2 linked regions of the Homo sapiens genome follow. Each later gene encodes a partner of the first gene's protein in a complex. Each region holds a gene or a part of one and is shown on either strand. Other genes may lie near its edges. The genes, in order: RAB6A and GCC2. A codon is read from its position in the direction of its gene.

What was found.
Region 2: the proteins of RAB6A (region 1) and GCC2 are in contact, whole or in part, in a crystal structure (PDB 3BBP), measured with the Homo sapiens proteins. Residues at the interface, in NP_942599.1 of Homo sapiens: Lys15, Ile46 (codon at 7,231), Gly47 (codon at 7,228), Ile48 (codon at 7,225), Trp67 (codon at 5,041), Arg74 (codon at 5,020), Phe75 (codon at 5,017), Ser77 (codon at 5,011), Leu78 (codon at 5,008), Ser81 (codon at 4,999), Tyr82 (codon at 4,996), Asp85 (codon at 4,987); in NP_852118.2 of Homo sapiens: Thr1585, Ile1588, Leu1589, Glu1591, Gln1592, Leu1595, Leu1596, Glu1599, Arg1602.

The regions. Positions count from the first base shown.
Region 1 is NC_000011.10:73,713,663-73,724,355, forward strand, and holds part of RAB6A (ras-related protein Rab-6A), read right to left. Parts: intron 7,238-10,693; coding exon 7,184-7,237; intron 5,229-7,183; coding exon of another isoform or gene 5,123-5,228; intron 5,057-5,122; coding exon 4,951-5,056; intron 2,701-4,950; coding exon 2,589-2,700; intron 1-2,588. UniProt on the Homo sapiens protein: The small GTPases Rab are key regulators of intracellular membrane trafficking, from the formation of transport vesicles to their fusion with membranes.
Region 2 is NC_000002.12:108,443,470-108,454,384, forward strand, and holds the start of GCC2 (GRIP and coiled-coil domain-containing protein 2), read left to right. Parts: upstream 1-5,736; 5' UTR 5,737-5,805; coding exon 5,806-5,811; coding exon of another isoform or gene 5,812-5,820; intron 5,821-6,163; coding exon 6,164-6,220; intron 6,221-7,558; coding exon 7,559-7,643; intron 7,644-8,929; coding exon 8,930-8,997; intron 8,998-10,915. UniProt on the Homo sapiens protein: Golgin which probably tethers transport vesicles to the trans-Golgi network (TGN) and regulates vesicular transport between the endosomes and the Golgi.

The sequences.
Region 1 (10,693 bases):
AATCATTCCCTTTATGGCTTCAGGATTTCATGTCATGCTTATAAAAGCCCAAAATATAAAGATGCTTTAAAAAATTAAGTCTTTTACCCATTTGAAAATCATTTTAGTGGAACGAACAAGCTGTAATTCTTTTAAATGTGAACAGTTGAGAGATGATAGTCTGGCAAAGATTACCAAGAAAGATGGTAATTTCAACGCAACTGACAAATGTTACCTTAAAGAAAAATTATTATAAATATAATTTCAGATAGGGCTTGTTGGCTCATGCCTGCAATCCCAACACTTTGGGAAGCCGAGGCGGGTGGATCACCTGAGGTCAGGAGTTCGAGACCAGCCTGGCCAACATGGGAAAACTCCGTCACTACTAAAAAATACAAAAATTAGCCAGATGTGGTGGCAAGCTCTTGTAATTCCAGCTACTCGGGAGGCTGAGGCAGGAGAATCACTTAAGCCTGGGAGACTGAGGTTGCAGTTAGCCAAGATTGTGCCATTGTACTCCAGCCTAAGCAACAAGAGCAGAACTCCATCTCAAAAAAAAAAAAAAAAAATATATATATATATATATATACACACATATAATTTGACAAGTTTCTACCATTTGTGCACACAACTGAAATATTAAGCAATAAAAAAATCCTTATAAGCATCCTCCTCAGATAACTCTGGCTATAAAGGGAAACAATTCAGATATACAATTTTTCTATTTAAAAATGAAGAGGCCGGGCGCGGTGACTCACGCCTGTAATCCCAGCACTTTGGAAGGCCAAGGCAGGCGGATCACAAGGTCAGGAGTTTGAGACCAGCCTGGCCAACATAGTGAAACCTCGTCTCTACTAAAAATACAAAAAAATGAGCCGGGCATGGTGGCAGGCATCAGTAATCCCAGCTACTCGGGAGGCTGAGGCAGGAGAATTGCTTGAGCCTGGGAGGCAGAGGTTGCAGTGAGCCGAGATCGCGCCATGGCACTCCAACCCAGGTGACAATGCGAGACTCCAACTCAAAAATAAATAAATAAATAAAATAAAGGTACTGGCAGGGCGCGGTGGCTCACGCCTGGCACTTTGGGAGGCTGAGGCGGGTGGATCACGAGGTCAGGAGTTCAAGATCAGCCTGGCCAACATGGTGAAACCCCGTCTCTACTAAAAATACAAAAATTTGCAGGACATGGTGGCAGGCGCCTGTAATCCCAGCTACTCAGGAGGCTGAGGCAGAAGAATCGCTTGAACCCAGGTGGTGGAGGTTGTAATGAGCTGAGATCACACCACTGCATTCCAGCCTGGGCGACGGAATGAGACTCCATCCCAAAAAAAGAAAAGTACCTACAAAGTCTCTAGAGTGAGGATAAATAAAATAGTGAAAATTTCCTTCATAGCAGTTCATGTCCAAAACATATTTTTATAAAGAAAAGATGCAATCACTTTGAATTTACTTTTAAATTAAGAAAGACTTTTTTGCAACTGTACTACCAATTCTTTTTTTTTTGAGACGGAGTCTCACTCTGTTGCCCAGGCTGGAGTGCAATGGCACAATTTCAGCTCACTGCAACCTCCGCTCCCCTGGTTCAAGCAGTTCTCCTGCCTCAGCCTCCCGAGTAGCTGGGATTACAGGTGCATGCCACAGCGCCCAGCTAATTTTGTATTTTTAGTAGAGACGGGATTTCACCATCTTGGCCAGGCTGGTCTTGAACTCCTGACCTCGTGTTCCACCGTCCTTGGCCTCCCAAAGTGCTGGGATTACAGTTGTGAGCCACCGCACCCGGCCTGTACTACCAATTCTAACTGAGGTGCCATGTGCAGAAATGGGCTTCATATCTCCACAAGTCTTTTAACACTGGCTTTCTTTGCAACACTTGAATTAATATCACAAGTTCATTACCCGAATTTCAATATCCATCTCATGAATAAACAAATAAATAGTAAAAGCTCTTACTATTAAGTAGTATGGTCAAAACTATTTAAAGCAGAAAGAATATGCAGTAAATCGCTTAAGAATGCTGAAAGCAAATATTCAAGCCATGGGTCCTACAGTGAATGTTAATATATTTTGCATCCTGTGACTTGAATATCGCTTTGCTCATTTGACTAAGGTATCACAATCAAGCTATTCAGTGCAACTACACAGTCTGGCTCAGCCACACAATTAAAAACCAACAACCAAAAAACAAAAATCCACACCACTGAATTATAATGAATGTTTTATAAGAAGACTACTAAGAAAAGAGTGTGCATTTAATCATTATGAACAATTTTTAAAGATAAGGTTTTTCCAAAATGGCTTGCTCTTTAACAAAACACTTTTCATACTTATGAGATCTAAAAAAAGCAAAATATTTACTGGCTTCATGTCTAAACAAACTTGCACAAGAGTTATTTACACATGGGCTTAAACAAAATAAAATTCATTTCCCTTAAGGACTGGCTGTTTAATATTTACATTTATATTTGAGGTTCCCATGCTAAAGAAAAGCAGGGGAGGACGTAAACTTAAGGATTAAGCATGTCTCCTTTCAAAACAATTTCTCAGTGAACAAAAATAAAAGGCTGCATCACAGAAATCAAACATTACACACATATAAAATAACTCCATACCTCTTGTCAGCAAGATCTGTTTTATTTCCTACTAGCATGATGATAACATCACTTCCTCTTTCTGTTCTGACATCATCAATCCACTTTGTAGTTTGCTGGAATGAGTTAACATCTAGTATAGGAGGGTAGACAGAGAGATTAGTGTTGCTGAAAAATGCCTCCCCAGGTGGTGGGCACCTCCCTCCAAAAAAGCCCTGGAAGTTGGAAGGGGGCTGGCACATTAGTACCCCACTTTTAATGTGCCTGCAACATAACTCCATTTTATCTGATTACAACTGTCAGCAATTTAAACAAATTACAAGAATAAAATCTTCAAGGTTCCTTTTAGAGTAGTTTAAAAATTTTTTGAACATGATCAAATGAGTACAATGTAGTATTTAATTGAAAAAAAAACAACTTTTTGAAATATAAGGACAGCTATGGCAGATAATATGGTGTCACATTGCCACAATGCTTTTTTGATCACTTACACATACCAAACATGACAAAGAAAGCATTTTCCAAAGTATGTCAGCCAGTAAGTCCCAACACATCCAGAAAATCTGTAAAGCCTTTCAATAGCTTTCAACACCACTGTTTGCACTGCTTCCTCAGTTTGTGATCACTTTAACCTAAAGTTTATTTGTTTAATGCATCAGAAACACTTGTAACAAAATTTATCTTTTCTAGTGTTGGATTCTAAGTAGAGTACTTCAACACTTCTTACAGCAGCTAAAGAAAACAACGTACTAATATTTGAATCACATTTGTGGATTTAAAAAAAAATACACCAGGTTTCACTTGCTGTGGTTAAAGTAAGCACAAACATTTTAAAGCTACAAAACGTGTCAATGCACAATATGAACATACCTCTTTTTTTTAAACAAACAGCAACCCAAAGTAAAGGTGCAAAGGAAGAAAGACTGCATATAGCACCTATCTCAAAAAAAGTCCTTGAATGCAATCTTCTAATTTTGCCAGCACAATTATTCGTTATTAGATAACAATTCCTAATTGAGGAGATATGCAAGAATGCATAGTAACAGTATTACTAGTCCAAATGAATAGTTCCTTTGTCTATTTAAGATTTTTTTTAGCCCAAGATACTACATCTGTGTAGTGTGGTACACATTTTTTAAAAATTTAAAAAGAAAGCCCCAGATACTGGGCTGGGCACAATGGTTCATGCCTGTAACCCTAGCACTTTAGTTTTTGTTGTTGTTGTTGTAGTTGAGACAGAGTTTTGTTCTTGTTGCCCAGGCTGGAGTGCAATGGCACGGTCTTGGCTCACTGCAACCTCCGCCTCCCAGGTTCAAGAGGTTTTCCTGCCTCAGTCTCTCAAGTAGCTGGGATTACAGGCATGCACCACCACACCTGGCTAATTTTGCATTTTTAGTAGAGATGGAGTTTCATCACGTTGGTCAGGCTGGTCTCAAACTCCTGACCTCAGGTGATCCGCCTGCCTTGGCCACCCAAAATATGGGGATTTCCGGCGTGAGCCACTGTGCCCGGCCTAAACCTAGCACTTTAGAAGGCTGAGGCAGGAGGATCACTTGAACCCAGGAGTTCAAGACCCTGGTTTTCCTATAAGTTATGAACCACTACATGTAATAATGTTTAATATTGCCTAATATATGTCATAAACCAATTTACAAAGGCAATTTCAATCAGAAAGCATTTTCTTGTCAGTCACCAATGCTTCATGGAAAATTTACAATCACTTAAAAGGCCACAGGCATTATTCAATCTTTAGAAAAAAGAAAAAGACTACTAGTTGTTTCACCTCCTATTTAAAATTTTTTTCTTGGAGAGAAATGAAAGTGTAATTTGTTAGCAACAAAGTAAATAAATCAGTCACAGAACCAAAATATGATTCAAATAAAAAAGATTAATAGAAAACTGTACATTATGTTTTCTCTGTCTTCCTCTACAGAGAGAGAATGGCTGGAAGGGGAAAGCAGAGAAAAGCTGGCTAGCAGAAGCTTGTAATAGCCTCAATAGAAAGCTTGGAGGATTTGGAAAACCTGGCAAGAGACTTAAATGCAGATCATTTTATTTTAGAGAAATCTGAGATCAAGGAAACATTCCTCCAACTATAATTATGGTATGGTTTACGAATAACAGGATACTAAGAAACCCTTGAAGAGGATTCATAGTTGGACCCAAAAGAAAATTTCTGGGGCAAAAAACCTGGCACAGTTACATATAAAGCATATTGGTATAAACACCAAAGCAAATATTTCTGACCTGGCTGGTATGTAATTTACTATGATAAAACTTATTTTTACATGCCAGTAAGGAAAACAAGCACAAGACAAGAACATGCATGCAGCTAAGCTAAAGGTTGAAAGAAGATTAGAAATGCATAATTCCCTCCACTCACTTGTGATATCATAAACAACAACTGCCACAGTGGAGTCACGAATGTAGCTAGGAATCAAGCTCCTGAACCGCTCTTGACCTGCTGTGTCCCATAATTGCAATCGTACCTAACAACAAAATCAGTCAAACAAGCAAGAAAAATAAGAAAGGTCAACCCGTTGCAATATACCTACTTGTGATATCGTAAACTACTACAGCTGCAGCAGAATCACGGATGTAACTGGGAATGAGGCTACGGAAACGTTCCTGACCCGCAGTATCCCACAGCTGAAGCCTGATCTGTGAGATGGGAAAAAATAAATAAAAAAAAAAAAACCAAACTAATACTAAAAAGAAAAAAGAAACAATGTTTTTTGTAAAAGGGAGAGGGTGGGAAGGAAGTAGAAAGAAGACTCATGCAAGAGGTTGCAGGGAGTGAGGAATGAAAATAACACAAAACTCCTTTTTCAAAAGGGAGAAATATTAAAAATTTGCATACTCCAAACATAAATGACTGGAAAATGCCACTGGGAAAAATTTCACAGAATCAGAAATATGGCTTCCCTTTTTCCCTACCTAAAACCTGTTTGAATCCCTATGCCTTTCAAGTGGCAAAAAGTAGACTGTTGATGGTTAAATAGAGAAAAAAACAAAACAAAACAAAAAAACCTAAGGTAAATGTCAATGAGCAGCCTAAGCTATCAGAGTAAAGGAATTAATGCTTCTTTGAAAGCTTCTCTCAAGCTAAAATGTGTCTCTTTCCTATTGGGTCTAGAATACTTTCAAACCTGTTTTTTAACTACCGTGCTTGTATTTCTCCCATACATTTTCCCCAGAACATGCGAGTGTGTGCGCGCACGCATGCACGCGTGTGTGTGTATAATGTAACAAAAAGGAGGAAGATCTTTTTGCAGCCCTACATAAAAATGTCTTTACGTACTATCCATATCTATATTACAGGAAGAAAAGCCTGAAAACAAGTATCAAGTTCTTGCATCATGATAAAGTCGTTTCCAAGCTTTCAAATTTTTTTTTTTTTTTTTAGACAGACTCTCATTCTTGTCGCTCAGGCTGAAGTGCAGTGGTGTGATCTCGGCTCACTGCAACCTCTGCCTCCCGGGTTCAAACGATTCTCCTGCCTCAGCCTCCCGAGTAGCTGGGATTACAGGCGCCCGCCACCACGCCCAGCTAATTTTTGTATTTTTAGAAAAGATGGGGTTTCGCCATGTTGGCCAGGCTGGTCTTCAACTCCTGACCTCAGGTGATCTGTCCATCCTGGCCTCCCAAAGTGCTGGGATTACAGGCGTGAGCCACCACACCTGGCCGCTTTCAAATTTTAAGAAATGACATGCTATATATCAAAACATAAAAGAGAATATTCAGGAAAAAAAAAACACCTAAGAAATAACACTGGAAATTAAATAATGTTTTTGGGTGCAGGTCTCAAAGTACTGCATTTAAGATATTCACTGTTTAGGTGACAAGTATCTCTTCAAGGGGTAGTGGGCTAGAATACAGATTTTACACTGTATTTAAAGAAAACATTCCAAAGGATGAAAGACAAAAATCCAACAAATAAATACACATTACTTTTTTTTTTTTTTTTTGCAACGGAGTTTCGCTCTTGTTGCCCAGGCTAGAGTGCAATGGCGCAATCTCAGCTCACTGCAACCTCTGCATCCTGGATTCAAGCGATTCTCCTGCCTCAGCCTCCCAAGTAGCTGGGATTATAGGCGCCCGCCACCACGCCTGGCTAATTTTTTGTATTTTTAATAGAGATGGGGTTTCATCATGTTGGCCAAGCTGGTCTCAAACTCCTGACCTCAGATGATCCACCTGCCTCAGCCTCCCAAAGTGCTGGGATTACAGGTGTGAGCCACCGCACCCTGCCCACATAACTTCTTTTTTGTCAGTCACTTTGATACGCATCCTATCCTGACAAAAAAAATCTTGAAGTTCACAAATTGAAATCTTTTTGAATGCCTCAAGGGTGGCATTTAGAAGGTCTTTAGCAGGTTTAATTTCTTCATAAAAATTCTCCTTTAATTCTCTGTAAAGCTCTTTGTTTTCATTTTTCCAAATCAAGATGACTGCCAAGTACTACTCACTCGGTAATAAGAGTTTTTCTCAACAACTGTAAACTATCTTTGGTAACTTTGCTAAGTACTTCTTATGGTGACAATCATTGATAACTTTGATTGCAGTTTTCTAACCTGGAATGTTGCAGAAAATTGCACACTGAAAATATTACTCACTGTTCGATCCTCCAAGTACATAGTTTTTGATAAAAAGTCAATGCCAATTGTTGCCTGTAAAACAAAACAAAGAAGTTAACAAATAATAAGTTTAATGGTGGCCAGCAGTTTAGGATTCAAATGGGATTCATGATTGTGGAAGAAATAATGAATAAACAAATCAATACAACATAGTCAATTAAGGACAATTAAGGACAAACAAAATTTCCAGTGATAATGATTTTCATGTATTCAGCACTTGCTTCATATCAGAGATTGTTTTAAGCCTTTTACATGATCATCTCTAATCTTTATACATTCCTGCCAGGTAGCTTATTCTCATCCCTACTTTTCTCATTTTACAAATAACAAGACAATGGCAACTTTGGTTTAAATATTTGTATTTGAACTTTAGTTTGAGTATCTGATTGTTCTCCACTCAGAATGGTAAGTATCTGCCCCAAGAGCAGTTTTATAAAATACTGTTGATATATTGTCAACTGTCCTAATGCCATAGACAGCCAGAGACTCACAAACATCATAACTTTCCATAAGAGACATGATTTTTCCAATATAAAATAAAAGTCATTAGGTAAGGAAAACAAGTTTTCCTCTGTACCACACAATGATAGCTTCCTTCTGTGGTGAAAACAAATGTAAAGTTCTATTGCCTGGCTGCTGTTTTCCCTATCAAGAGAAAATGGTGAAATAATAAGAGAATAGAAAGAAGGCAGACTACAAAAAAGAAAGGAAAAAAAGTATACAAGTTAAAAAACAGTCCAGTATTAATTAGGGGAGATAAATAAAAAGAATGGAAGAAAGACAGACTCCAGAAAGAGGATGTTGATATGGACTCTATTTTAGAAGTTTTACCACCTCATTAATGTTTGTGTGCACATATACTATGTATATATGTGCGTGTACATACATACTTTTTCCCTAAATATCTTTGTGCCATATTCCTTAAAACAGAAACTGAGTCTGTGCATTTTAAAATATGAGTCACTAAGAATTTTAAGTTCCTAAAAAACAATCAAAAACTAGATCAGAAAAGTGGTCCATCAGTTGGGGATTTTATTTCTGTTAGCAGAAAAATAGAATTTTGTGTGTGTCATAGTTGAGTTCTCACGAGATCTGATGGTTTTATAAAAGGATTTCCCCTCTCTTTGCTCTGTGCTTCTCCTTGTTGCTGCCATGTGAAGAAGGACATGTTTGCTTCCCCTTCTGCCATGATTGTAAGTTTCCTGAGGCCTCCCCAGCCATGTGGAACTTGAGTCTATTAAACCTCTTTCCTTTATAAATTACCCAGTCTTGGGTTATCTCTTTATTAGCAGCATGAGAACAAACTAATACATGTGTCTCCTTTAATTTCTCCCAGCAGTGTTTTGTATAGTCTTATGCTGTTTGTTAAATTTGTTCCTAAGTATTTTATTCTTTTCTGATGCTTCCGTAAATAAAATTCAAATATATATGTGTGTGTGTATATATATATATATATATATATATATATATATATATATTTTTTTTTTTTTTTTTTTTTTTTGAGACAGTCTCACACTCTTGCCCAAGCTGGTATATAGGGGTGTGATTTTGTCTCAGTGCAGCCTCAACCTCCTGGCTCAAGCAATCCTCTCGAGTAGCTGGGACTACAGGTGCATGCCACCATGCCCCACTAATTTCTGTATTTTTTTATAGAGACAGGGTTTTGCCATGTTGTCCAGGCTAGTCTGGAACCCCTAGGTTCAAGAGATCTTCCCCACTTGGCCTTCCAACACGCTGGGACTATAGGCATGAGCCACTACACCCTGCCTAAAGATAATATCTTTATATGAAAAATCAATGCAATGTTGATAAGTCTTTACATGTTTTTACATATATTCAAGAATGAAAGCTACAGTAAATTACATAAATTGATTATCTACTAAGTGCCGATTTATACACATTGCCCCATTTAGTTCTCATTTATTCGTTCATCGATTATTTATTTATTTATTTATTTAGAGACAGAGTCTCGCTCAGTCGCCCAGGCTGGAGTGCAGTGGCGTGATCTCGGCTCACCGCAATTTCTGCCTCCTGGGTTCAAGCAATTTTAGTGCCTCAGCCTCTCAAGTAGCTGGGATTACAGGCATTCACCACCAAGCCCAGCTACTTTTTGTATTTTTAGTAGAGATGGGGTTTTGTCATGTTGGACAGGCTGGTCTCGAACTCCTGGCCTCAAGTGATTCCCCCCGACCTCGGCCTCCCAAAGTGCCAGGATTATAGGCATGAGCCAATGTGCCCAGCTTGCTCATCAAATATTTATTAAGCACGTACTTGCAAGTACTGTGTAAGGTACTAGAGTGATGAACAAACATGCAGTTAGTCTCTACCCAAATTGGACGGAACACATTTAAAAATCATGTACACCTGTCCACATTCATCAGGAATATTTATTGAACTCTATTCCTTCCAAATACTGGGGGGGAAAAAAAGAAAGATTTATTTTACTTATTTTATTTTATTTTATTTATTTATTTTGAGAGACAGAGTCTTGCTCTGTCACCCAGGCTGGAGTGCAGTGGGGTGATCTTGGCTCACTGCAACCTCCGCCTCCTAGGTTCAAGCAATTGTCCTGCCTCAGCTTCCCAAGCAGCTGAGACTACAGGTGTGCACCACCACACTCAGTTAATTTTTGTATTTTTTAGTAGAGACGGGGTTTCACTATATGTTGGCCAGGCTGGTCTCGAACTCCTGACCTCAAGTGATCTGCCCACCTCGGCCTCCCAAAGTGCTGGGATTACAGCCATGAGCCACTGCGCCTGGCCGAAAGAAATATTTATTGATTGCCTACTAGGCACCATCATTAGCAGCTGAGAATCCTGTGGTAAAAGAATAAAAAGCAGACAAGAATCTATGCCCTTGCAAAGGTTACAGTCTGCTAAGACAAACAATAAGCTAATTAAGTAAAATAGTATATTAGAGAGTAGTATGAGAGAAAAAAACCAGGAAAAGGACAATAAAAGATATTATGGTACGATGTCAATATTTTTAGATAAGATACTCAATAAAGGCTAAGAAAATGACTCTCACCACTCCTACCCACATATCTATATACTGTAAACCAGTACCCTGCATTTCAATATATAAGATTTTTTTTAGTTACATAAATAAAACACCACAAACTTTATGTATGTCAATTCCTGTACAGCAAATATTTCTAACAAATAGGTTTTTAAAGAAAAAATTGAACTGTTTCTCAAATTCCATATAAACGCTTATGCATTTCTCATTCACTTTGCCTTAATATGGGATTACTGCATATAGGCTGCAGAAAGTTCACACTCAAGAACAGCTATGTAAAGCATGTAAAACAACAGCAATTCAAAAGGTGACTCCAAAAGCAAAGAAAAAGATATCCCACTGAACACTTCATTTTCTCTTCCATGACAAAAACATTCACTTGAGAATATATTAGTTCGAACATCAAAGTACATTTGTTGATATACATAGGCAACATCACAAACTGACTAAAAGTAAATTTTATAGTATATA
Region 2 (10,915 bases), on another chromosome or scaffold:
AATTCCTTCATAATTTCCCAAATTGGCCAGGCGCAGTGGATCATGCCTGTAATCCCAGCACTTTGGGAGGCCAAGGCAGGCGGATCACGAGGTCAGGAGATCGAGACCATCCTGGCTAACATGGTGAAACCCTGTCTCTACCAAAAATACAAAAAATTAGCCGGGTGTTGTGGCTGGCGCCTGTAGCCCCAGCTACTCAGGAGGCTGAGGCAGGAGAATGGCATGAACTCGGGAGAGGCGGAGCTTGCAGTGAGCCGAGATCATGCCACTGAACTCCAGCCTAGGCAACACAGCAAGACTCTGTCTTAAAAAAAAAAAAAATTCTCAAATTAAGAGGAACTGATCCCATTGTCTGGTATCCACAAAAGACACTCACTTGCCCAGACACAAAACACACAATTACAAAGAAGCCCCAAAAATGTCCAAACTGAAACAGTCAGAATGCTTCTCCCTCTCAGTCAGTTGGCCTTGTTCAACCTACAAAATGGAAATTCAGCTTAAAATTTCCCAAATTAGGAGGAGCAGATCCTGCTTTCTGGGCCCACAAAGGACACTCACCTATCTAGATGTAGATGTGAAATTTCAAAGGCAGTTCGTCCCAGGAAGTCAGGAACGCAGTTGGGGCTGGCAGTATCAGGGCCAGAGAGAGATGGAAACTCACCTCTAGTCAAAATTGGATGGGCAGCCATTTAGGTGGTCTTCTGAGACTCCTGGCCCTAGCAGCCAAGCCAAGAGCAACACATTCCCAATCAGGGAACCACAATCTGTTACAGAAACACCAGGGGAAAGTCTATGTCCTGCCGCTCACCACACGGAAAGCCAATCACTGAGATGATGAGTATTGCCAAGGAAGAAGATTTTAATTGGGTGCTGCAGCTGAGGAGATGGGAGCTCATTCTCAAATCCATTTCTCTGACTGACTAAAATTAGGAGTGTATACAACAGGGAAGAAATGTAACAATGTGTAAGGAAATAGGAACTAGGGAGGGGCAAGGAAGCAATCATAATGAATGAGGGGTCCACCATCTCATTGTCAGGATGTGGTGATCTGTAACTTTCAGTTTTTTGATACTTTTTTGAGAGGCCTAAAGGTAGTTTCCTGAGGAAGGAACTCAGATAAAACAAATGTAAGTTTCAAGCTTTAAGACCAGAAGGTCCATTTCTATGTTTATCAACAATACTATCTATGGGACTATTGGGTCGGTTCCATTATCACCACTGCTCTTCGGCTTCATTATCTCTGTTTCCTCCCTTGTTTCCTTAGAGACATGATTTTCCTGAATCTCACAGGCTGAAAATCAGTTATATGTGCCTTTTTAAAATAACTGCTATGGGCTGAATTGTGCCCCATCCACCAAATTCATATTTTAAAGTCCTAAATCGCAGTCCCACAAAATGTGACCTTTTGGAAATAGGGTCTTTACAAAGGTAATCAACTTAAAATGAGGTCATTAACGTATACCCTGATCCAATGTAACTGCAGTCCTTACAAAATGTGAAATTTGGCCACAAAAACATGCATAGAAGGAAAATGATGATAAGAGAAACAAAGGGAAGACAGCCATCTGTGAGCCAAGGAGTGAGGCCAGAAACAGATCCTTTCCTCACAGCTCTGAGGAACCAGCACTGCCAACACCTCTGAACTTCCAGCCTCCAGGACTGTGAGACAATACATTTCTGTTGTGTAAGCCAACTAGTCTGTGATACTGTTACAGAAGCCCTGGCAAACAAATAAAATAATTATATAATCTAATAAACTAAAGGCACAGAAGTTTACCCTGACTTAAAGCAGAAACCAAATTCACCAGTGATAGAAGCAGGAGATAGCCAAATGCCTAAGCAGATAGGGAAGGGTCCCCAGAGAATCTCTGACCAGCCACACAAGGGTTTACACCAGATGTTTTGTGCAGATAAGGGAACCTGCACAGGGGTCTTGCCTGGGCATGCCCACAGTGGACTGGAGGCCCACATGCACTGGGGGAATAGGGTGGAGCCACCAGGAATTTGCGCCTTATGCAGGGGAGGAGCCTGGCCTCTTCAACTCATGTGTGGTGGCCCTGGTATTCAATTTGGGAGGTGACAACCTGCTCTCAGGACCCCTCTCTTTGCTGAGAGCTTTCTTTTCACTTAATAAATTCCACTCTCCTCATCCTTCAATGTGGCTGCATGCCTAATTCTTCCTGGTCATGAGAAAAGAACCCAGATTAGCTGAGCTAAGGAGCAAAAAAATCCTGCATCACCAGTATGAACATCTAAGACTCATGAACATTTGTTTTCAATATTGTTATAAAAATTTACTTTATAAATTAAAAAGTAATGCTGGCTAGCTACAGCATGTTGATGTGGCTTTACAGTATAATACCAAATAGATAATATTTTTGTGTCATGGAGGAGAAAGCATTGCACTGAGGGTCAAGAATCCTCTGTTCTGGCCGGGCGTGGTGGCTCACACCTGTAATCCCAGCATTTTGGGAGGCCGAGGGAGGCGGATCACCTAAGGTCGGGAGTTCGAGACCAGCCTGACCAACATGGTGAAACCCCGTCTCTACTAAAAATACAAAAATTAGCTGGGCATGGTGATGCATGCCTGTAATCCCAGCTACTCAGGAGGGTGAGGCAGGAGAATCACTAGAACTTGGGAGGCGGAGGTTGTGGTGACCCGAGATTGTGCCATTGCACTCCAGCCTGGGCAACAAGAGCGAAACTCCGTCTCAAAAAAAAAAAAACAATCCTCAGTTCTGGTACTGGCTCTACCCCTAATCATACTATGAACCTTAGAAAGTAACTTACATTCTGGCTCACTATCTTATCCTGTATAATAAGAGGCAATAGGTTAGGTCAGAACTACATTCACTTGTAAGTATATTAAAAGTAAATTAAAACATATGACTTATCTTTTAGCTACATCAATACAATATAAATGGGCCGGGTGTGGTGGCTCATGCCTATAATCCTAGCACTTTGGGAGGCTGAGGCAGGTGGATCACTTGAGGTCAGGAGTTCAAGACCAGCCTGGCCAAGATGGTGAAACCTTGTCTCTACTAAAAATACAAAAATTATCCAGATGTGGTGGCACTTGCCTGTAGTCCCCGCTACTCGGGAGGCTGAGGCGGGAGAATCACTTGAACCCAAGAGGCAGAGGTTGCAGTGAGCCAAGATCATGCCACTGCACTCCAGCCTGGATGACAAAGCAAGACCTGTCTGAAAAAAAAAAAAAAAAAAAAAGGAGAAGAAAGAAAAAAAAATACAATGTAAATGTAGTTTTTCCATGCTTACCTTAAGAGTTATAATCAAAGCACTGAAGAGCCAAGGATTGATTTTTCTGAAATAAAACTTGCTAGCGAACTAACAAAAAAAGATCAGGTGTCTCTCCGGACCATCCCTAAGCAACAGGTGCCTTTTAATGTGGCTCTTCAGGAGATAATGGCATGTTGGCACCATTCCAAACTGGTAAAGAAGCTATTTTTACTTAGGCAAGACCCTGCAACTTGCTCAAATTATATTATGTTTCAGTAGTGCTGGTTAACATACAGCAGTCTCCATCTACTATACAATGTGACCAGCACAGCACATATTATTGACATTGTTATTAACATTGTTCCTATTTTCTATTTCCATAAATGATTCAAGGTGATTTTTATTTTCTTTTCGGAATTTTCCTATATTTTCCAGGTGTTCTACAATGAACCTGTGTTACTTTTACAATTGGAAAGAAACATATTCGTTAAACAGGTCATAGTTCTGCTCATTAAGGTAATATACATCTTTAAAATGTGAACTTATCTGCAGTCCAGAGAATGTGAAATATAAAGCAGATCTTTCCTATAGGTTTATGAATATCAGAAGATCTCAGAGTACTCACAATCAATTCATAAATATTCATTCTTTAAAGTATGAAAGATGATAAATATATTTAGAAGATTTCAGCACTTACTATAACTAGTGAAGGAAGAAATAAATGATTTCTTCCTTAAGAGGAACAACAACAGAAGGTATCCGATGGTCAAGAACATTATACCTGCCTCCATCATCTCAGAAAATAAAATTCCTGTCCAATGACAACCAGGAAGGCAGATGGGGGTGAGCTCGAGCTGTGTGAGGAGGCCGCTGATGACCTGGAGCTTAGGGGTGTGCTGACCCTCATCTCCCTGGGGATTCCCAGGAGACGCTGCCCTACCTGTAGCTGCAACTCATGGACCCTGTTACCCAGCCAAGTGCAATGGAGGGCTGGCGAGGGAAGAAAGATCAAAGGAAGAAAAGAAAGGTTCTTTTTTATTTCAAGTATGAGAAAAAGAGAGTTCTACTGTGAGAACATCAACTCTTCTGTAGCTATTGATGTAGCCAAACTCCTGGAATGTAACTATATCTAACAGTGTTTCTCTGAGAAACTTTTACAGGATTGGAATGTGTGTAGTATCTAGTTAACCTGCTATTTTATTGCAAGTGATTTTTTCAAGTTATTAATTGAAATAGGAGTCTACCGTAAGTTGCTCTTAACTTGGGGAACTACTTTGAATGGCATTAATCTGGACCATTAATAACAATGTATACTTGGGGATTGTGTGTGTGTGTGTGTATACATGTGTGTGCATATATGTGTGTACACACACGTGCACACACACGTGCGCGCACACGTGCACACACACACGTGCACACACACACGTGTACACACACACGTGTACACACACACGTGTGTTACTGTACGTGGAGACTGTACATCTTAGGTCACACACCACCCCTGAACCAATCCTACAAACACCATAGGTGATACACACTGTCAAAGACAAAGAGTAGATGTCCACAATAGCTGTTCTTTCTCGTTTATAACACTTCTTTTACCTAGTAATAATCAGCTACCATTTACTCGATACATACTGTGTGCTGCCTCTTCAACCTTTTGACCATTTAAACTACAGGAAACTAGGTTATCTTCAGGTTACCTTAGTTATGGGAGTGTATGGAAAACATTAATGGGAAGGTGAAAGCGCAGCAAACCACTTCAGCAGTTAACAGAAAGGCTCTCAGAGCACTGGACCGCCAATCAGGACACAGCAGCAGCTCTGGGATTCGACCACAGATTCTCTGGCGTGCCCTTCGGGAAAGGGTGGCCTCGGGCCCCCTACTCTACAGAGTCTCCTCCCACGGCTGCCCAGTTCCCTGGCCGACTATCTTGCCTCCACCACATCACCATCAGTACCGGGCGGCTGCAGGGCAGAGCTGTCCAGGGACCTCCTCACAGCCTCCAGAGTCAAGAAATGCCTCCTCAGGGAAGCCCTCTACCGCATCCCTGACCTGTGAGTCACGGAGCTCCCGGGCACCATGCTGGCCACAAATGCCTAAGGAGCCCCCCGGAACCAGCTGTGGGTCCCGCAGGCACTCGCAGGCTAGCGGACACCTTTGGAGGACTGAGAGACCTGTCCTGCAATCCAATGTTCCTCACTCTCACAAGATTTTACAGACGTGGAAACCGAGGCCCGAGGCCCCAAGGGGTAATCGGCCCGCCTTCCCATGCCAATAACCGGCAGTGGCGGGACCCACACCTACTCCGTGACCTGCAGGCCCAGGGGTCGAGCCCCAGGTAGAACGTCTAGACGGACTCCGCCCTTAGCGCCGTACGGGGAACCTTCTCCCGGACGCAGACACGGAAGCGGAAGTGCTGCCGAGCTGTAGCTATGGAGACGTGGGGGGCGGGCCGCCCGGAGAGCGCGACCTTTGACCTGCAGTAGAGCCTACGTCAGAGGCTGGCGCAAACAGAAGTGCAGCGGTGGCGGCGGCTGGTTGCGGGCCGGCGGCGGGCTGGCGGAGATGGAGGTAACTCAGGTCGGGCCCACTGCCTCCCATCAAGCCTTCCGCGCCGCGATTTGGGATGTGGGAGTGGGCCCGATGGGAGGGCGCGGTAGTCTCCCTCTTGGTGTCCCGAAGCCCGCGCTGCTGTCGCCTCCCCATCTTTCGTAAACTCTATCCCTGGGGGTTACCTGCCCCGTAGAGCCCGTTTGTGTACGAATTGCCACAGCGACCGCCTCCGTCCGCCCTCATTCTCTGTCTCACGAGGCTTTCCACCACTTGATTCCATAGAAGGTTTTTCCCTGTAAGGGTTCTACGCGTTCCGTGTGGAATTAGGAAAAGAGTTCTTCTGACACCTGGGTTTGATTTTGTTTTGCAGGATCTTGTTCAAGATGGGGTGGCTTCACCAGCTACCCCTGGGACCGGGAAATCTAAGGTGAAGAGAATACTTGAATAGCGGGCTTCCTGAAGAGTGGAAGGGTGATGAATTGGAAAACTTTGGCATGGGGAAGGGGGGGGCGCTGATTTTTTTTTTTTTAATAGCCTTGCTCCAAGGGATCTCAATTTTAGTGTGCGCAATCGCCCATTTCCTGTTTCTCCCCCGCCCACCCCGATATAGAAAGACTTTTTGTTTGCTTCCTGCTCCTGGTTAGCACTGCTGGGAGATCCTGCTATTTTTCGAACATAAAGCAGTCTAAGAAGGTTTATATAGTGGTGTAGTGGAAGGAGCAGTGACATAGGGTAGGAATCAAGGGATTCTGATCTGTGGGCTCCAGTTTCTACATTGCCAAAGAGTTTAATTAGTCCAGTTTTATGGCCCTGTACAATGTTTAACATTCAATCATTCTAAATGATAGTGGTTTATTGCTAAGGTTTATTGTGTGCATGCTAAATTTCTGGCGCTTGCCTAACCACTCAGTTCCTTCGTTTAAGCTTCATGATAACCATGAGATAGGTACTGTTGTTACCCTCCTTTTACAGATGAGAAACCTGAGACCACAGGCTTAAGCAATTTTCTCAAGTGGTAAAGCTCAATTTTTTAATTAAAGCCTGAATGTTACCCGGTTCATCTTGCTGCTGTAATTATGCGTAAATTTTCTTGTGACCAAAGACTTGCAGCCTTGAATAGAATGAAATAATTTTACAGCTCCAAGGAATTTTAAGTAGCATTAGCTCCAACCTACTGATTTTACAATTAAATCAAAAGCTAGCAATGTCAACCTGTAACATTAGCTATAAGAGGATATGGCCTGGTTTTTACGTTTCATAGTAGTTGCATAACTAATTTTTAGTAGTTGCATAGCAATTACAGAATTGACGTTGCATTTGCTGATTTTAAAAAATGTGGCCGGGCGCGGTGGGTCACGCCTGTAATCCCAACACTTTGGGAGGCCGAGGCGGGCAGATCACCTGCGGTCAGGAGTTTGAGACCAGCCTGGCCAACATGGTGAAACCCCGTCTCTACTAAAAATACAAAAATTAGCCGGACGTGGTAGCGGGCGCCTATGATCCCAGCTATTTGGGAGGCTGAGACAGGAGAATTGCTTGAACTTGGGAGGCAGAGGTTACAAGTGAGCCAAGATCGTGTCATGCACTCCGGCCTGGGCAATAGAGCGAGACTCTGTCTCAAAAAAAAAATGTGGAACAAAGTATGCGGTTGGCATAAAGATTTATTCTGTAGAATGTTTTTGTTTTCTAGCAGACATTGTTTCTTTTTTGTGGTATACTAGAAACATGAGTTATAACAAGTTGGTAACATGACCACATCTTTCAGCTGGAAACATTGCCCAAAGAAGACCTCATCAAGTTTGCCAAGAAACAGATGATGCTAATACAGAAAGCTAAATCAAGGTGTACAGGTATTGGGTTGAAAATACTCATCTTGATCACAGTCTCTTTAATCGTGGTTTAAAATGGTAGTTTTTAAAATAATGCATTGGCTTGTTTTTGTTTGTTTTCCAGTGATTCCAAGTACACCTTAGTGTAGTAGAATCTGTTATTTAACATTCTAAAAATTTACCTCTGATTTCTAAATTATTCCCACATCTCTAAACCACAGTGACTTTTGAGTTGTTAAAGTCAGGGAGGAGGATTTTTAAAGTTTGTGTAAGTTAAGTGTGTTTTTCCTTCATGTAGACTTTAGATTCTTCTGAGTTCTGAGTAAAGTGTTTTTTCAAGAGAAGTCAGTTGAAATGTTAGAGACAGAAGATAAGCCCAAAGAGATGGAAAGCTTCCTCAATTAAAATAATAAAAGACTTCCATTTACAGATATTGAAGTATGTTTACCTGCTGAAGTTGATTGATTCCCTATTCAGTTTTCTTTTTATTCCAGAAGGAAAAAGATCTTAGCACCTTTTTTTTTTAGTATATGTACATGAGCTCTTGAATTTCCAGTGACTTATAAATATTAACTGCTTAGCCTAAAAGCTAAGACTTATTTTCTATTAGAAAAGATAAAAGTATGTCTTGGGAGTTTGGATCACCTTGCAATGAAGAGAATAATTTATTTGGAAAGAAGTTCTAGGCCTGAGATCTAGGCATTTGCTAATTAAACACTTAGATTAACGTTTCTTTTCTCTCTCTCTCTCTTTTTTTTTTTTTTTTTTCAAGACGGAGTCTCGCTCTTCTTGGCCAGGCTGGAGTGCAGTGGCGCAATCTCGGCTTACTGCAACCTCCCCTTCCCGGGTTCAAGCGATTCTCCTGCCTCAGCCTCCCGAGTAACTGGGACTGCAGGCACCCACCACCATGCCTGGCTAATTTTTGTATTTTTAGTAGAGACGAGGTTTCACCATGTTGGCCAGGCTGTTCTCGATAACGTTTATTCTTAATATGTGATTGTTGCTTTAAGGTTATACAGTAAGATGTACTTACAGGTGAAATAATATGATGTCTGGGGTATGCTTGAAAATTATCAGATGGATAAGAAAAGCAGTGAAGGAGGAAGTGAGTACAGGTTGGGAGGAAACAAAATTGGCCATGTAATGCTGAAGTATAGTGATGAGTGCAGAGATTAATCATACTATTCTGCTTAAATATATTCTAATTTGCAGATTTATGGGGGGTTTTGTGAGAATGTACTTATCAGTTTCCCAGTAATTATGTTCTTTATTTCTGAACCGGAGTCCTTTATTTTTTAATTGTTTAGAATTGGAGAAAGAAATTGAAGAACTCAGATCAAAACCTGTTACTGAAGGAACTGGTGATATTATTAAGGTAATTATTACGTTGGGAAATGTCTAAAGAGAAATAAAATTTCCCTGAGGATTGTCAGTCTGCTAGAGGCTATCTGGCTTTCTGTTTCTGTTCTACTTCCTCTCTGCCTTGGTTGTTTTTACCTATCTGATTCACTGTAAAAAGAGGGGGTTAATGACCTCTGGGTCTCTTTCTGTTCTGAAATTATTATTCTACTCTCTTCCCACGTATTTTCTTTTTTCTTTCTTTTTTTTTTTTTTTTTTTTTGAGATGGAGTCTCACTCTGTCACCAGGCTGAAGTGCAGTGGTGTGATCTTGGCTCACTGTAACCTCTGCCTCCCGAGTTCAAGCAGTTCTCCTGCCTCAGCCTTCCAAATAGCTGGGACTACAGGCGCCCGCCACCACACCCAGTTAATTTTTGTATTTTAAGTAGAGACGGGATTTCACCATGTTGGCCAAGATGGTCTTGCTCTCTTGACCTCACGATCCGCCCGCCTCAGCCTCCCAAAGTGCTGGGATTACAGGCGTGAGCCACCACGCCCAGCCCATATTTTCTAATTATGGTTGTTACTTCATTCTCTGCTCTTCCCCAGCCCCCTGAAAACCTGGCCATGCTCAGGACTTAAGTGATTTTAGGTGTACAGTATATAATCTATAGATAGATCCATATCCCTGGACATGTCTACTGACCCAGATCTCACAGTTGTGTTTCCCTCTCACACATTTCACTTATCTCATCAAACTCAACCAAATTGCTTCCCTTGGTTAGACCAGTGGCACCACAGTTTTTTATACCTTTTGACTTTAGAGACACTTTAACTTCTCTGTTTCCTTTATTCTCTATATGTGTCAGTCACCAGAGACCTATTATAGCTTTAAGATATTGTTCCAGTTTATCTTTTTTCTCTCTATTTCTATGGCTTTATGTTAAACACATCAAATACTTAACCTATTTCAATAAAAACCTCACTGGGTTCTCTTTCTCTTTTTAGTCTTATATAATACTGCCAGATAACAAAATATTGTTTTTATTCCCCGTTTAAAAACCTGAGTTGCAGGCCAAATGCAGTGGCTCACACCTGTAATCCCAGCACTTTGGGAGGCCAAGGTGGGAGGATCACTTGAGGTCAGGAGTTTGAGATCAGCCTGGCCAGCATGGTGAAACCCTGTCTGTACTAAAAATACAACATTTAGCTGGGCGTGATTGCCCACACCTGAAATCCCAACTACTCAGGAGGCTGAGGCACGAGGATTGCTTGAACCCAGGAGGCAGAAGTTGCAATGAGTTGAGATTGAGCCACTGTACTCCAGCCTGGGCAACACAGCAAGACTCCGTTTTTAAAAAAAAAAAAAAAAACACAAAAAATCTGAGTTGCTTATTCTTATTTCCACTCCCTTAATGCTAACAAATGCTTTTTCATTCCCTCACTTTCATTGCCCGCCTTAGGCCAAGCTTCTGTAAAGTTTCTTTTACATCTCAGAGCTCTGAAATACTGTTTTCACTGCTTTTGCATAATATCCGTTGGTTATATATTTATTTATTTTTATTTATTTATTTATTTTGAGACAGAGTCTCGCCTTGTCGCCCAGGCTGGAGTGCAGTGGCACAATCTCGGCTCACCGCAAGCTCCGCCTCCTGGGTTGACGCCATTCTCCTGCCTCAGCCTCCCAAGTAGCTGGGACTACAGGCACCCGCCACCATGCCTGGCTAATTTTTTGTATTTTTAGTAGAAACAGGGTTTCACCACGTTAGCCAGGATGGTCTCGATCTCCTGACCTCGTGATCCACCTGCCTCGTCCTCCCGAAGTGCTGGGTTTACGGGCGTGAGCCACTGCGCCCAGCCTGGTTATATATTATCTTATTTTCTCATCAGTGGCTCCCCACTTGTGAGCAGTGAACTACTGAGGGACTCCCAGAGAGTTATTACAAGGGGTCTTT